Regions from separate parts of the Homo sapiens genome. Here all the other regions are linked to region 2. The links come from fine-mapping of genetic effects on gene expression. A gene starts in region 2. Each other region holds a variant in brackets. All regions are shown on one strand. Distances are from middle to middle.

The links.
Region 1: its variant is fine-mapped to the expression of TCF3 in whole blood (INTERVAL, PIP above 0.99).
Region 3: its variant is fine-mapped to the expression of TCF3 in tibial nerve (GTEx, PIP 0.96). The same link has a PIP of 0.9 or more in subcutaneous fat.

Annotation. Positions count from the first base shown.
Region 1 is chr19:1,616,987-1,621,986 of GRCh38, reverse strand. It overlaps TCF3 (transcription factor 3), which reads left to right. Exons shown (of 19, transcript NM_003200.5): 11 at 17-149; 12 at 796-854; 13 at 941-1,019; 14 at 2,134-2,207; 15 at 2,513-2,671; 16 at 2,753-2,876. Among named protein-coding and RNA genes, the nearest start is that of UQCR11, 14 kb to the right of the region's middle. The variant A/G (reference allele first, on the strand shown) is at 2,647.
Region 2 is chr19:1,649,536-1,656,325 of GRCh38, reverse strand. TCF3 (transcription factor 3) reads left to right here and starts at 3,711. Exons shown (of 19, transcript NM_003200.5): 1 at 3,711-4,026; 2 at 6,039-6,149. The coding sequence starts at 6,078. RefSeq lists enhancers at 2,973-3,082, 3,203-3,252, 6,671-6,790 and silencers at 3,543-3,592, 3,603-3,732, 4,263-4,342, 4,433-4,662, 4,470-4,692 and 1 more.
Region 3 is chr19:1,628,908-1,633,907 of GRCh38, reverse strand. It overlaps TCF3 (transcription factor 3), which reads left to right. Exons shown (of 19, transcript NM_003200.5): 4 at 1,503-1,576; 5 at 1,792-1,870. Among named protein-coding and RNA genes, the nearest start is that of TCF3, 21 kb to the left of the region's middle. The variant C/T (reference allele first, on the strand shown) is at 2,663.

The sequences.
Region 1 (5,000 bases), 33 kb after region 2:
CTGCCTGACCCCCCAGGGCTACCAGCTGCATGGAGCAGAGGTGAACGGTGGGCTCCCATCTGCATCCTCCTTCTCCTCAGCCCCCGGAGCCACGTACGGCGGCGTCTCCAGCCACACGCCGCCTGTCAGCGGGGCCGACAGCCTCCTGGGTATGGCCCCTCCCTGGGATGCGGCCTCTCCGAGGGGACACTGGGCTCCAGGCAGGGTCTGGGTGGGGGGTGGCGAGGACTCCACGGGAGGCGCAGGCGCGTCTGCTGGCCCTGAGAGCGGGTTGTTGTCAGTTCTCATTGTCCGCTGTCTGCAGGGCCTGCCACGTGCGTTGGGCTTGGGATGTCTGGAAACAGATCTTTGAGGAGCGGCTTTCCCGCCTTACAGCTGGGAAAGAGGCTCAGAGAGGGACTCACCCACCCAGGGTCAGAGAGGGACTCACCCACCCAGGGTCAGAGAGGGACTCACCCACCCAGGCCCAGAGAGGGACTCACCCACCCAGGCCCAGAGAGGGACTCAGTTACCCAGGCCCAGAGAGGGACTCACCCATCCAGGCCCAGAGGGGGACTCACCCACCCAGGCCCAGAAGGGGACTCACCCACCCAGGGTCCCCTGCCAGTGGCCTGTCCCCAGTGCCTCAACCCCTGCAGAGGCTGGTTTCAGGGGGTCAGACAGAAACCGGACCCGAGTCAGGCTGCTCTCCCTGGCGCAGCAGTGTCTGTGCAGGACGGCAGAACGCAGGAGAGCTTGCCGTCGGCGGCAGCACCCAGGCCGGGCTGCGTGGGCCTCACCTCTCTTCACCCACAGGCTCCCGAGGGACCACAGCTGGCAGCTCCGGGGATGCCCTCGGCAAAGCACTGGCCTCGGTGAGGCGTGGGGCATGGGGGGTGGCCAGGCAAGTGACCTGAGAGGCCGGCCCCTGACCGCCCATCTCTCCTGGTCCTCCTCGCAGATCTACTCCCCGGATCACTCAAGCAATAACTTCTCGTCCAGCCCTTCTACCCCCGTGGGCTCCCCCCAGGGCCTGGCAGGTCTGTGAGGGTTTTGGGGGGAGGGGAGGCTGAGGTCTGTGAGGGTTTGGGGGGAGGGGAGGCTGAGGTCTGTGAAGGCTTTGCGGGGGAGGGGAGGCTGGTTCTGGTGTCTGCACCTTGCTGGGATAGGCAGGCAGCGGGGAGGGAGCAGATGGCCCCCAAGGGCCCGTGGCATCGCTGGTCAGGAACCGACGGTGGAAGGGAGTCCCCCATGGGCTTGTGTTCCACTGGGCAATCCAGGAAAGCTGCCTAGTGGAGGCAGCCTCCAAGCCAGCCCTCCAAGGCTATAGCACATAACCAGGCAGTGAGGGAGGGCTGGGAGGTGGCGTCCAGGTTAGGTCACAGCACAGGCAAAGCCAGGAGGCAGGACCTGGCAGTTCACACTGCGTGAACATGAGGGGACATTGGCGTGCCTAGCAGCTCCCAGGTCCGATGGGGCCAGCATCGCCAGGGCTGTGGCCTGGACTCTAGAATGTGTGCGTGTTGCCATTTGCTCACCCACTGGGTATTTATTAGGTACTGACTGTTTACCCTGTGCGGTGCTCCGGCATGGGAGGGCAGACCCTCCTATCCCTGTGAGGACGTGCTTGCTTATCCGCAGGGGGTCGGGGGCAGGTACAGGAGGAGGGGGAGTGAGAACTGGAGGTTTCCAGAAGGTCTGGGTGTTTAAAAACACCCGTGAGTCCTCATCTCTGCCCCCATGGGAAGCGCCAGGAACCCTCACTTCACCTCGGCCTGTCTGGTCCCACCTGGAGCTTGCCACTTTCTTGCCTGCTGCTGGAGCCCAGCGTGGGTCAGCCAGGGTGGGGCAGCATGGGGAGGAGCCCCCTACTGTGTGCTGCCGAGCCACTTTATCCTCTGAGTGGGGAGTTGGATTTTGTAGATGGGGAAACTGAGGCTCAGAGATAGGAATGGCAGTACCCACTGGGCACCCAGCATCCCTGCCTGGCGGGGCCGAGCAGCTTTGCATCAGTGTGGGGTGCCCCGGAATGGCCATCTTGGGCATCACCGGAGGCTGGACAGGCGGGGTGGTTCATGAATCCCTCCCCATGGGCATCAGGCCATGCTCACACCCCGCCCCTCGCACCCCATTCACGTCCCCACTCCCTTCCAGGAACGTCACAGTGGCCTCGAGCAGGAGCCCCCGGTGCCTTATCGCCCAGCTACGACGGGGGTCTCCACGGCCTGGTGAGTGCCTGCCCCGCCCCACCCCACCCTTCCCCGACAGAATTTGCAGGACAGACGCTCCTTGAGAAGGAGAAACCTTTTTGTTAGTTTCTTGTAAATAAGCCCCAAGCTGTTATTGAGGCCTCGTGGCCGCCAAGGCACACACATTTTGTGTGTGCTCCCGGGCGCCAGATGCCTGGCATATGCAGCTTCCTGGGGAAGGGGAAGATGGGACCACCGGCCACTTGCATGCGGAAGGGACATGAATGGAGGCCTGTGGGGTCCCTCGGCTTGGGCCCCTCACCACCCATCCCCCCACCCTGCAGCAGAGTAAGATAGAAGACCACCTGGACGAGGCCATCCACGTGCTCCGCAGCCACGCCGTGGGCACAGCCGGCGACATGCACACGCTGCTGCCTGGCCACGGGGCGCTGGCCTCAGGTTTCACCGGCCCCATGTC[A/G]CTGGGCGGGCGGCACGCAGGCCTGGTGAGCGCTGGGCGAGGGTGGAGCTGGGCAGTGGGCGGGGACCCGGCTCCCCCTGATGCACCCGTCTCCCCACGCCTGCAGGTTGGAGGCAGCCACCCCGAGGACGGCCTCGCAGGCAGCACCAGCCTCATGCACAACCACGCGGCCCTCCCCAGCCAGCCAGGCACCCTCCCTGACCTGTCTCGGCCTCCCGACTCCTACAGTGGTAAGCCCTTGAGCTTGGGACTGTCCGACTCCTGGTTCCAGTTGGGGAAACTGAGGCACTCTAGTGGTGGGGGTCAGGGTGGGAGCCCAGGGCAGGTGTCACCGTGGGGGCACCTGGTGACATGGGCGCCCCAGTCAGCAACTTCAGGAGGGTGGGTAAGACCGGCGGGGCCGGCGTTGGCCCTGGGCGTGTGAGGTGGACAGCTCTGGGCTGCCTCTTCATTCGCCTGCTCCCAGACGCTGTGTGCCTGGCAGCGCTCAGCACTGGGGAAGGGGCGAGGGGTGCAGCAGGATGCCTCTGCCTCAGGGGAGACAGACCAGGAGCTCGCTGCACAGTACAGGTGCCAGGGAGAAGGAACGAAGTGGCTGCGGTGGGTTGGGGGTTTTGTATGGCTTTGAAGATGGTGGCCCATGAGGCCACAAGGTGGTGTTTGGGCAGCATCTGGGAGGAGGCAAGAGTAGGCAAGTACCTGGAGGAGGAGGGTTTCAGGCAGAGGGCGCAGCCCAGGCAAAGGCCCTGGGGCTGGACTGCACCTGGGAGGAACAGCCAGGAGACCCGTGGGGTTGGAGCAGAGTGAGGAGAGGGAGAGAGGGAAGGGGGGAGGGCGGGGCAGGGCAGGTCATGCGGGGCCTTGTGGGCTGCGGGGAGGACTTGGGATTTGGCCATGAGAAAGGTGGCAGCCGTGGAGGGCTGAGGAGGGATGGGACCTGACCCAGGTGCTCACAGATACCCTCTGGTGGCTGCTTGGAGGACAGACTATGAGTGGCACCGGGAGACCAAGGCAGAGGCCACAGGGCTGGTCCAGGGGCCTTGGAGGGGTGAGCAGTGGGTGGGCCCTGCATCTCCTGAAGGCGGGGCCCACAGGATTTGTGATGGACAGGACTTGAGGGTGAGAGAAGGCAGGGTGGCTCTGGGATTTCTGGCCCGAGCTGTGGGTGACACTGGGGCTGGGAACTCCGTAAGGAAGGGGACAAAGGAAAAGGTTGGGGACAAATCTGGACCTGGGCCTGGGGATTGTTGAGTGTCTCAGACACCCATGAGAGGCCCAGGAGAAGGTGGGGTCATTGTGGGCGCTGTCCTGGCCCTGTGCCTTCCACCAGCCCAGGAATCCTGCCTGCTTTCCAGGCAGACTTTCCAAGTACCTTGATTCTATCACTCCTAGGCCAGGGCATCTCACCGCAGCGGCTCTGCCCCCAGGGGACACTGGGTGATGTCTGGGGACATCTACAGTTGTCAGGGCTGAGGGGAGCTCCTGGCATGGAGTGGGTGGGGGCCAGGGATGCTGCTCAGCACCCTGCAGTGCCCAGGACGGCCCCACCCCAGAGAAGGGTCCGGACCCACAGGTCAGCAGTTTCCAGGGGCAGCCCCAAGCTTAGTCTTTCACCCATAGGCTCCCCTCTGTTTCCTTCCTGTCCTTCACTTCGTGTGCTGAGGCCTGGGCTGGTCCTGGTGGCTGGCGTTGGCCGATTGGAGCAGAGTTCACTGTGGGGAGCGGGTGCATTTCTGAGGCTCCCCCTCAGGGTACGGGGGTCTCAGGGGATGGCAGCTGGTTTGCTCCATGTGAGCCCTGACTGATTCCTGGACTCCCCAAGCCCGGGTTTTGGGGGTGGCCCAGGCCCTGCTGAATGCAGAGTGGCCGCATTCATTTGGGGCACTGTGTACCCTTAAGCCACATGTTTTGCAATTATTGTTCTTGAGCTTCATGAACACGGCGTCCCACTAGCGTGTTCTTTACACGCTGGTTTGCTGGCTTATGTTGTGTGTGGGGTACATGTGTGGTGTGAGCGGCTGGGGTCCCATTGTGAGTGTGCCGTTGGCCCTGGCCCGGGCGTGGGGCTGTAGGTCATTCCAACATCACGCTTTCCTGCCAACCTGCTGATCAAGGGTGTGATACACCTGTTGTCAATTCAGAGGAAAGGCTGATGAATTATTTTCCAAAGCAGCCAAGTTGCCCTCCCACAGGCAAGATTTTGACTGTTCAGGTCCCTCAACTTTGCTAGCTGACTGGGTATGAAAGGGTAGCGCAAAGCCACCCTAATTTGCATTTCCTTAATCTCTTGATGTGCTGAAGCGGACTTCCACGTGTTTCTAGCCATGTGGTTTCCTTGTCTGTGAGATGCCTTT
Region 2 (6,790 bases):
CCGAGTCCCAGCCCAGGGCTCTGTGGGGTGGTCCTGATCTGGTCGTGTTGGGATCAGGCCCCTCACTGGAGGTCTGAGCTCGAGCAGGAAGCCCCCACTTTGGGAGGCGACACCGATCGCCCCAGCTGCCCGTGCTCAGTGGACGCCGGAGCGAGGTTTGTCCCAGGGCCTGACGTGGGTGATAAGTGCTGGGCCGCCACTCCCTTCTCCGCCCCTGCTGGAGGGCGCTGGGGGTTGGGGGAGTGTGTTCATACCCTGGGAGAAGTCAAAGGTGCCCACTTTAGGGACAAATGGAAACAGAAATCTGGAGGGTGGCCCCGAAGTCCTAATCCAAGCCCAGTCTCTCTGCGGACAGCTGTGGCCTGCACACCTACTGCGTCTGTCTCTGGAAACCTCGCCATCGCCGCCCCTCGCCCCCCTCGCTTCTGTGTCTCCCTAGTGGGAAGTTGTCCTTGGCCTCAGTTTTTCTGACATACGTGGTTCATGTTGGCGGGGGCGCACACAGTAGGTGTGGAGGGAACAGGCGGCAGGTGCAGAGGCCCTGCTCCTCCTCCTGCCCGGCCCCAGAGCAAAACAAAGGCCACAGTCAGGAGGATAGCTTGCTGCCTGTCCCCGTACCAGGGCCCTGGAGGGAGCACCCAGGCCTCGGGGCTGGGCAGAGGTGGTGGCCAAGTGGGGGGCCCCCACGGGCTGCTCCACCCAGTGACTCAGCCCCAGGACTGACCTCCTTGGGGAAAACAATGGTGGCTTGTGGTTACCAGCGGAACCTCCTGGCAGGCGCGAGCCCCAGGGTGCCCTGGGGCCCAGGGAGGAGACCCCTAGTCTCAGTTTCCTCATCTGTACGATACGTGGAACCACACAGGCAGGAGGACCTCACAGGAAAGAGCCACATTCAGGACTAGACAAGGGGTCCCTCATGGGTCATCCTGCCGGGACAGCAGGGACTGAGTCCATCACTGTCCACAGTGCTACGATGCGCGGCACAAGGCCCCGTTCGCTGTCAGTGCCCGATAATTGAATAGTCTTGTACGGCGCAGTGGCACACGCCTGTAATCCCAGCACTCTGGGAAGCCAAGGCGGGAGGATCACTTGTGCCTAGGAGTTCAAGACCAGCCTGGGCAACATAGGGAGAACCCCGTCTCTACAAAAAATACAAAATTAGCTGGGTGTGGTGGCGCGTGCCTGTGGTCCCAGCTACTCGGGAAACTGAGGCGGGAGGATCGTTTGAGCCCAGGAGGTCAAGGCTGCAGTGAGCTGTGATCTCACCACTGCACTCCAGCCTGGGCAACAGAGCGAGACTCTTTCTCAAAATAATAATAATAATAATAAGAAGAAGAAGAAGAAGAAGAAGAAGAAGAAGAAGTCCGTGATTGGATGGTTGCTTCCCTTCCGTGGGTGAAACTGAAGGGCTCCTCGGGAGGACTCCGGCTGCCACACTATGGCTTGGACCCTGAGTGTGGGTGGGGAGTGGCCCACAGTGAGCTCCCTACACTGGAATGGGGAGAGCCAGACCCGGCCACAGACACCCTCAGACCCATGGGGTCAGGGCTGGGCCACAAGGAAGGGCCGGGGGCTGAGGAGGCTGGGGTGGGATTGGAGCTGCTTGGAGACCCTGGCTCCGGAGAGGCCTCTGCGGGGGTGGGGGGCGGCTGAGGAAGGCAGGCATCAGCTGTGAGCACCTACTGTGTGCCAGACTCCCCCCTTCCACTGTCCAGATGGAGAAACCGAGGCCCGGAGAGTAGCACGAACTTGCCTGAGGTCACAGTGAGGTGGAGAGGGATGAGGGATTTGCAGCACAGACCCTGGGACCCACAGCCCTCTCCCCAGACCTGCGGCACGTGGAACTCTCTGGGCACGGAGGGTCGGACTGTGGACAGCCCAGTTTGGGTGTATAGCAGGAGGGGCTTGTGGCTTTGGTGGGGGGCCCCTGTGGCCCCGCCTCCCCGCCGGCCTGGCATAGGTGCAGCATTGAACTGTGATGACTCAGGGGCTCCAGATAGGGGTGGGAAAAGCCTCCCAGGTAGAGGACAAAGCAAACGTAGAGGCCCGGGGTGGGGATGAGCTTAGCAAGTTCTGGACCATCCAGAGGGCAGGATGGCTGGAGCCAAGCGGGCCAGCGAGATGGTGGCATCTTCCCAGGCTGGGAGTGGAGTGTAAATTTCCCTTTGGGGCCCCAGGGAGCCCTGGGAGATTGTGTTATTTTCATTTATTTGTTTAGTTATTTTACTTTTTTTTTTGAGACGGAGCCTCGTTCTGTCGCCCAGCCTGGAGTGCAGTGCTGCGATCTCTGCTCACTGCAACCTCTGCCTCCTGGGTTTAAGCGATTCTCCTGCCTCAGCTTCCCGAGTAGCTGAGATTATAGGTGTATGCCACCACGCCCAGCTAATTTTTGTATTTTTATTTTATTTTACTTATTTATTTATTTATTTTGAGACGGAGTTTCGTCCTTGTTGCCCAGGCTGGAGTACAATGGCGTGCTCTCGGCTCATTGCAACCTCCGCCTTTCGGGTGAAAGCGATTCTGCTGCCTCAGCCTCCCGAGTAGCTAGGACTACAGGTGCCCGCCACCATGCCCGGCTAATTTTTGTATTTTTAGTAGAGATGGGGTTTCACCGTGTTGGCCAGAGAGGTCTCGAACTCCTGACTTCAGGTGATCTGCCCGCCTTGGCCTCCCAAAGTGCTGGGAATACAAGCGTGGGCCACCGCGTCCGGTCAACTTTTTAAATTATTATTTTAAATTATTTTAAATATTTTTAGAGACGGGTGTGGGTGGGGGGGGTTTCACTATGTTGTTCAGGCTGTTCTCGAACTCCTGGCCTCAAGCGATCTTCCCGCCTCGGCCTCCTTCAAAGCGCTGGGATCACAGGCAGGAGCCACGGCGCCCGATCCTAGGCGGGGTCACTTTTTACTAAAATGTAGACACGGACTACTAAGAATCAGGAAGCCAGATCTGGCCTGAGTTCTGTCCAAAGTCAGGTCCAAATTCACAGATGCCGAGACGGAGACTCAAGTCGGCAAAGGCACCGCTGAGACTCCCCGCGGGGCTCTCTGACCCAGAGCCGGAGCCAGAGTCGGTTTTCCCGCCGGGAAAATGGGTCTGACGTAGCCCCCTCGGGGCCGTGATACCCGCTCGCACCACTCAGCACGCGGGGCCGGCCCGAGGAACGCAAATATAACCAAGCAGAAGGCTCCGCGCGGGCGGCCACGCCAACCTGAGAACAAAACTCCAGGACCCACCCCGGCCGCCTCTCGCGGCCTCTCGCTCGCAGAGTCCCGCCTCTGCTGAGGGGCGGGGCCGAGAAGAAAGGAGGCGGGGCCTCACCACGAATGGCTAGGATCCCCGCCCATCAGACTTTCGCGGCTTCCGATTGACCAGACTGCTCTGCCTTAGCTTTCAATCTCACGGGCCTTACTCGCTTGCGTCATGGACTAAGCGCACAGCTCGTGTGTGCTTCCGCGGACGGGGATAGTCCGTGATTTCTCCCCGCGCCGTGGCCCGACCGCCTCCTCTGCGCGTCCCCGCTCCCAGGCTCTGGACCTCACGGGATTCGGGGTCCTCACGAGGGTGCTCGAGAGGCCGAGCTAGGGCGTTCGGGCCCGAGCCGCCCGGAGGTGGCGGAGGGATCCGCGTGGGCCGCCGGGCGGGGCACTCGGGGGCGGGGCAGGGGCGGGGCCTGCACGGGGCGGGGCGGGGCGGCGCGGGCGGGGGGCGGAACATGTCTCCCGCCGCAGGAAGATGAGGCAGCGGCGGCGGCTGCGGGCGTAGCGGGCCGGAGCCGACGCGGCGGCGGGCACCGCGGGCACCGCGCACGCCGCTGCCCCAGGGGCGCCCCGGCCGGCCGCGCGCACGGGCCCCGCGGGACGGGCCACGCGGGGGTGGGAGGGGCCCGGGCCACGCGCGCCGCCGCCGCCGCCCACGCGCGACCCTCGGGGGCCCGGCCGCGACGCACCTTTGTCCGGGGGGGGGCCCCCCCGCTTCATGCCGCCGCCCCCCCCCACGCGCCGCGTGCCCGGCCGCGCCCAGCAGGTGAGCCCGGCGGGGGGCGGGGGGCGCGCCCGGTACCCCCGTGCTTTGTGCCCAGGGAACCCCGGCCCGCCCCGCGCGCGCTTGTTGGGGGGGGGCGCGGAGGAAGTTGGGGCGGGGGCGGTGTCGGGGGGCGCCCCGCGGCCCGGGAGTCATTGTTCTCCAACTTCGCGCGGCGCCGGGGGGGCGGCGACGTGGAGGAGCCCGGAGCTCGCCAGGCCCGCGTCGCCCCCGTCGGGCCGGGCACTTCGGGAAACTTTAAGCAGCCCCGGGCGGGGGCGCGGGGGGCGCCGGACGGGCTGTGCAACTTAGGCGCGAGGACCGTCCCCCCCAGCCCGGGCGCACGGGGACCCCGGGGCGCCCCCTTTCTCGGGTAGAGGGGGGCCCGGCCCGGGCGCCGGAGTTTGGGGTGGGGAGCGCGCGGGAGGGACGTCCTTTTGTCTGCGCGGGGAAGGTGCCGCGCGCTGCAGGCGCTGGTCGGGGCCGGGCGGGCCGGGGGGGGGCGCGCGGGTAACATCTGCTCCGCGTTAATGCGGGGCGAGGCGGCGGCCGCGCTGCGAGCTTCAAAGGCTCCCGGGCCGCACCGCCTGCACCGGCTGCGGGGGGAGGGGGGTCCGGCTTCCCGGGCCGCCTCCCCCCGGGAAAAAGGCGTTCCAGCGCGCCCCCCGCCTTCGGCGCCGTGCAAAGTGGCTTCAAACATTCTCCAAGTCTCTCAAAGTCCTTGGGACGCCCCAGAAGTCTTCCAGCTCCCGTAGAATGCCCGTTTTAGCTCGCCACCCCCCCAACTAAGTCTGTCTTAAAATCGGTTTCAGCTACCCCACAAAAAAGTGCGGTTTCGTAGTCCTCAAAAAAAGTCAGTTTCACACGCCCTCCAAAAAAGAAAAAAACTGAGCGGGGGAGGGGCTGCGCTGGGGCGCCCGCTTCACACCCGGCCTCCAGTTGGCAGACAAAGAGGGGATTTCTCTGCTTCTGAAGTTGGGTCTCCCTCGACCTCGGAGGCTCCTCCCCACCCCCAGCCTCGGAGGTGTCTCCCGGGCTGCCCCCGTCCCCACCTGGGGACCCCTGGGGAAAGTCGAGACTGGAGGGGCCTGGAGTGCATTTCTTTGGAATGGAAATTTTTCTCTGTACCTTTTTCTGGGGGTGGAATGGGTCTTGGCAGGTGGATCCCCCATCCCCCATCTTAGAATGGAGCCCCCTGGGACCACGCGGGAGCACCCTGGTCTTGAGACGCTCTCCCCGCTCATGGAGGGCAGGCAAGGGATGTTGTCAAAGTTTTGCTTAAAAATAATTCCCGGATACATCGCGACAGTAAAGCAATCTAGGGCTGTTTTTTTTTTCTTTCCTGAATACTGTTGGGGTTTTCTTGGGGGGAGGGAGATTGAGGGTGGAGGAAAGCTTTGCTGGTCCCTGCATAGGATGCGCGTCCCCCCCACCCCCGGCACTTTAAGTCTTGAAGCTTGTAAAAGAGTTTCGTGGTTTTCTGACTTGTGGATTTCCTTCATGTTGAATTTGGGGGCGACCTGGTCTTCAACGGGCTGTGCCATCTGCTGGGGGAGGGGGGAATCACCAAATTTCCCTCGGGGCGGGGTAGGATCGGGCTGTTCCTCCCTTTCCCGGGGGTAGGGGGCCTCAGAGGAAGCCCGGGGTTGGTTGGAAATGAGAGAGTTGGAGAAAGGAGAGGTTCTGGCTGCCCTGCGTGCAGTTTAAACTTGGCAACTTGATGCCCTGGTGTTCCCTGGGGGAGTTAGGGAGTTTATATTTGCACACCCTCCCCCCATTTTTCAGACTCCCTGTGGTCTCTGGGGAGGACTCTGCAGGGACCTAGACTCTGGAATTCCAGCTTCCCTGCGCCTGCTCCCAGGGCTCCCCGTGCCCCCAGGGCTCTGCTGGAACTCAGACCCCAGGGCGGTTGAGGGTTTTTTAGGTGGCTTTTAGCACTCTGTGCTTTGACCACTCACAACTCTTCTCCCCTCCCTGTTTCTCCCTGTCCATCTGTCCCCACATCCACCAAGCAGGGTTTCCAGGCCTGAGGTGCCCGCCCTGGCCCCAGGAGAATGAACCAGCCGCAGAGGATGGCGCCTGTGGGCACAGACAAGGAGCTCAGTGACCTCCTGGACTTCAGCATGGTGAGCCAGGACCCCCGCCCAGCCCCCGACACCCCTTTGCCTCCACAGTTCACGGGAAGGTTTTCAGGGGAGAGTGTTTGCTGAATACTTCAGCGATGGAGCCTCAGCTGTTTGGATGGGAGGCCCCGGTGGGGCTGGGGGAGTGGGCCGCTCTCTGGCAGGAGGCTGACAGCGCACGGCAGCACGTGTGCTATGGGGCTTTTGCCCGGACGCAGCATTCTACAGCCTACTGCTTTACAGATGGGGAAACTGAGTCCTCAGGGGCATGGTCCTGGGCCCCCAGCTTGGCTGGGTAAGCAAAATGCGGCCTTGATCTTCTGATCTGTAAAATGGGCCTGATCAGGGTCGCTTACCTCATTGTAGATACAAAAATTAAAAGTAAGTAAAAGATCACTGCACTCCAGTCTGGTTGACAGTGAGACCCTGGAGACCCTGTTTCAGTAAATGGGAGGGGGGCTGGGCACAGTGGTTCCCACCTGTCATTCCAGCACTTTGGGAGGCTGAGGCGGGAGGATCGCTTGAGGCCAGGAGTTCCAAGTCCAGCCCAGGAAACATAGTGAGGCCCCATTTCTCAAAAAGACAAAACAAAACTCAAAAAATTAGCTAGGAGTGGTGGTAGATGCCTGTGGTCCCAGCTACTT
Region 3 (5,000 bases), 22 kb after region 2:
TATAGAGGCAAACTGAGACCCAGAGGGTGCCGGCGCTGTGCCCACCCCTACACAGCCAGCCCACCCTGGCCTCAGCAGCTGCCCTGTTCACCAGGGCCCACGTGCAGGACCAGGATCTTGGGGTGCAGATGGCCCAGACCTGGCAGCGAATGCCGTGTGGATTCCTGGAGACCACAGGAGCCCCCTGCCTGGCCCCCAACCCAGCCAAGGCAGCATCCCAGCCCCCCACTCATAATCACATTGGAAATTTTTGATTAGAAAACAAAATCTAAATGAGGCGCATGAATATTCATTAGACTTGGAGATTAATATGCATAATTATGCAAATCAGACAGCAATTAAACACCAATACTCCCCGGGGGGAATGATTAACACAAAGGCACCGAAATAGAAGGATGCGATTTGAAAGAAGTTTCTGGTGTGGATGAGCAGGGAGGGCAGGGGGCGGGGCGGGGGAGCCTGCAGAACAGCCTGAGGTGGTGCCGGTCACAGACATCAGCACTGGGCTGGGTCCCCCAGGCCTGGCTCTCGGGAAGCCTCTGGACTTGGGAGTTGGACATGGACACCCCCAGCCCTGCAAAAGTAGGGCCTGTTTGTAAATCATTTATAGAGAGGGAAACCAAGGCAGGGCAGCAACTCCGTGGCCAAGCTGAGGAGGCCCAGGGCCCGCTCCTGCTTCTCCACGGGTGTGCTCTGTGGCCCCCGATGGAAGGGGGAAGGATCCAAGCAGGCCCTCCCTGCCCAGGGCAGAAGATTCTGGAGTCCTGGGCGTTGCCTGTGAGTGTTCTGAGAGATAAGGGCCCCGCCCGCCCCGCCCCGGGACCAAGGTCCTCGTCCCGTCCCTTGCTGCGCCGGGAACTCCTGCCCCACGCAGGCTTCTGGTCTCCACACTGGGCTTGTTCCTGGGTGATGAGATTCGGCTCCACCCTCACGGGCTGCCAGCCTCCTGCCCGATGGGTGAGCCTCTGCTGCTGCTTCAGCAAAGGGCGGCCCCACTTCCCACACTGGCAGGTGGGGACAGGGAGACCCTGGGCCTCCCCAGAGCTCATGGGTTAGCTTCCACACCCTCATGCTGTCATGAGCCTTTCTCACAGGGTCAGAAGAGTCTGCATCTGACACAGAGACCCCAGTCCACATAGTCAGGGCTGGGCCAGAGGGAGGGACTTGGGGCTGATGGGGAGGAGGCTCGGCGTGAGAGTGAGGTCTTTGCCCAAGGAGGGTATGAAAGCTGGGGCTTTAGTGGGTGGGTAGGAGTTGGCCAGCAGAGAGCCGACGGAAGAGTTAATTTAAGTTTATGGACCTGTAAGTGCTCCGAGTCCCAGGGTGTCTGGGTGTTAGCTGCTGACTGGTGTCCTCATGAGTCGGGCTGGGTGAGGCTGGGTTAGGAAGGGTTCCACAAGCCCCCCGGGTCCACTGAGGTTTGCCCCTGAGATGATGAACCGAAGCTTTTAGAGCTGGGCAGGCGTGAGGGTGACCCATAACTCTCTCTGTCCTGCCTGCAGGTCTTGAGGACCGGCCCAGCTCAGGCTCCTGGGGCAGCGGCGACCAGAGCAGCTCCTCCTTTGACCCCAGCCGGGTAGGAGTCCCCGTGAGGCCTGAGACCCTGAGTTTCCTGTCCCCAGAGTTGGGGGCGAGGGGTGTGGGGAAACTGAGGCTGAGAGAAGGGGCCAGCCTTCCAGGGGTTTGGACTGGGGGACATGGGTTTGAGTCCTGCCTCTCCAGCTGTAATGCGGGGTGGAGGGGGGGCCTGTGAAGCCCCAGCACCTCTCATCCCCACCCCATCTCCCCTAGACCTTCAGCGAGGGCACCCACTTCACTGAGTCGCACAGCAGCCTCTCTTCATCCACATTCCTGGGACCGGGACTCGGAGGTGAGTGCCTGGCCTGGTGCGGTCCCTCTGCTGTGCACAGATGTGCAGACGTGGGCCTTGGCATGGTCAGTGCACGCACAGCGCCAGGCAAGTCCCCAGCGTTCACCCAGAGGGTGTGGACAGCCGAAGCCTCTGCCCGTCCTGGGAGCAGCTGCGGGGAGGTGCAGGGGACGTGGCCCGGACTCCCTGGCACGGCACTCTGCAACTAGGCTTCCCCGCCTGAGCGTAGAGGCAGGGAGGCCGTTCCAGACCCCACTTCCTCCCTGGGATTTCTGCAGGGCTCCTCCTGCTTCCCGGGGAGGGGTCAGCCGGGCTGGCCTGTGCCCGCTGGGAAGGAGGCGTAGGAGTTCTGGAGACTCGGGAGGGCGGCCAGAGTGTGCGGTGGTCAGAGCCCATGCCCTTCCGCAGACCGCCCGCCCGCCCTCTTTCCCTGGGGGGCCCTCCTGTTAACCGAGAGAATCGTGACTCAGGTTGGGCTCGGTGGCTCACGCCTGTAATACCAGCACTTTGGGAGAGCGAGGTGGGTGGATCACCTGAGGTCAGGAGTTTGAGACCAGCCTGGCCAACATGGTGAAACCCCGCTTCTACCAAAAACACAAAAATTAGCCGGTCATGGTGTTGGATGCTTATAGTGCCAACTACTCAGGAGGCTGAGGCAGGAGAATTGCTTGAACCCAGGAGGTGGAGGCTGCAGTGAGCCGAGATCACGCCATTGCCCTCCAGCCTGGGTGATGGAGCGAGATTCCATCTTAAAAAAAAAAAAAGAATGAAGACTCAGGCCTGGTGTCTGGT[C/T]CCACCCCACCACGGAACCTGGGCAAGCGCCATCCTCTTCTGAGCCTCAGTTTCCCCACTGTGGGAAAGGGACCCTCCCAGAACCTTCTTGGAGGGAGGCGGTGAGGACTGACCCAGCTCTGCAGGCCCTGCCCAATGCCAGGTGGGGGTTGGTGCCTGGTCTTGGGTATATTCCAGCCCCGCTGCAGGCTCACCCGTGCTGCAGGGGAACGAACCGACGCTTGGGAAGGGCACCCTGGCCGGGGGTCTGCGGCTGGGTGGGGCTGACTGGGACGCCCTCCTCCAGGCACCTGGGGCTGCGACTGGGACAGTGTCCCGTGTGCGGTCCCTCCTGCGGGTGACACAGGAAATGCCCCGAGCTTCACATGCTCCGCCTCCTGCGGGAGTGTCAAGTCCTGTGCCCCAGGGTTCGGGGGCTCAGGTAGGGGTCTTGGGGGGGTCCCGCTGCTTGGGGGGCTGGTAAGGGCCTCAGGGGTCCCGCTGTCGTGGTCAGCCTCCTGCCCCAGTGCCTCAGCTGTGGAATTTGTGGTTTCATCCCTCAGTCATCCTGGGATGCGGGATCCTTCCCTTCTCTGGAACCCGACGGTTTGAGGCAGTGTTTCTGCTGGCTTTTCGTGGTGCAGTGGGGGTGTGCGCTGCTTAGAAGCCGGGAGCTGTGGGGCACTGGACCTGCTGCGGGGCCCAGGTGCTCACCGTGTACCCCTCGGCATTGTTGGCTTGCGGGGAAACTGAGGCCCGGAGGACTTTGGCCGACCCAGCCTTTTCCCTGGACCCTGAGGGGCAGCGCCTGTTTGGGCCCCACAGCGGGGCAGGGACGGTCCTGTCTCGCTTTGCCCGGCCTCGAACTTGGAGTACAGTAGAGTCAGTTGGTGTCCTGAGTAGGAAGCGAATAGCGTGAAGGTCTGGCGGGTGTGTCTGAGGGCCCACCACGTGCCACGGGCGATTTCTGCCCGTTCCCCTTACGGGGTAGGTGAGGCCTGGCCCCGCCCCCCTGCCGGGGGTGGCCCCTGCACCTGGGAGCCTGGTTCCTCACTGGCTGTTCCTTCCTCCCAGCCTCTTCCTCATACCCCCGATGGCCCCAGGGTGGGCAGGGCTGACGTGGGCAGTTCCCACGGCCCGGCCAGCAATGCCCAGAGCCCAGCCATGTCCCACCTGCCACCCCCACGGGTGGGGCCCAGGCCATAGCCAGGCAGCTTGGAGAGGGCAGGCGGGGGTCCCGGGGAGGCACGGGGGGCTTTTGCCATAACCTCAGTCTCCTATGGCCTCAGTTTTCTCACCCGAGGAGCCGGGCGAGTGACTGCTGTGGCCGGGTGTGGCCTGTGGGGTGGGTCGTGGCTGTCATCTTCCCCATGTCCCCCCGGGTCACCAAGATGAGGAAACGGGAGGCAAAAAACAGCAGCATTTGTTCCAGGAGTTGGGAAATCGTTGAACTTTTAAAATTCAAAAATCGGGAAATTTTTTTCCTGCTTTGAGAATAATGTACATTACTCGATCGCGCGTCCCAGCCCCTCACAGCAGCCCCAGTCACATTCCGTGCCCAGTGTCAGCCAGAAGGGGATTTAAGTGGCTCAGGTCCTGAGTAATCGGGGTGCCTGCTTCAGGCAAGGCTGGATCCAGGTGTCACCGCATCAGCCCCAGGCCCTCCACACTGGGGGCTCGCCCCGGCAGGCTGTCCTCCTCCGTAGCCCAGGCCCTCCATGCTGGGGGCTCGCCTTGGCCAGCTGTTCCCCTCCGTAGCCCAGGCCTTCCATGCTGGGGGCTCGCCCTGGCCAGCTGACCCCCTCCGTAGCCCCGAGGCCTCACCTGTCCTTTGTCACTGAGCGCCCCAGGGAAGTGCTCATTGGTGGGGTGCAGGTCACGTGCTCATTCGCGAATGAACCCTGGCCTGAAGGCTGAATGCTGGGCACTTTGGGGGAGCCTGTGCGGTGAACCTGATGCGGTGTGCACAGGCCCCGGGGCTCCCCGCCAGGGCCCCCAGGCCTGTCCCCTGGGACAGACAAATGCCTCTGACCCCAGCACCCCAGGGCATCAGCCCCTCAACGCCTGAAACAGAGGAAACTGAGGCTCAGGAAGGGCAGGGGCCTGGCCAGCAGGAAGCAGGGCCACTGTGAGCTCTGCTGTCCCCTTCCCGCCTCACCCCGTGAGCTCTGCTGTCCCCTTCCCGCCTCACCCCGTGAGCTCTGCTGTCCCCTTCCCGCCTCACCCCGTGAGCTCTGCTGTCCCCTTCCCGCCTCACCCCCGTGAGCTCTGCTGTCCCCTTCCCGCCTCACCCCCTGTGAGCTCTGCTGTCCCCTTCCCGCCTCACCCCGTGAGCTCTGCTGTCCCCTTCCCGCCTCAC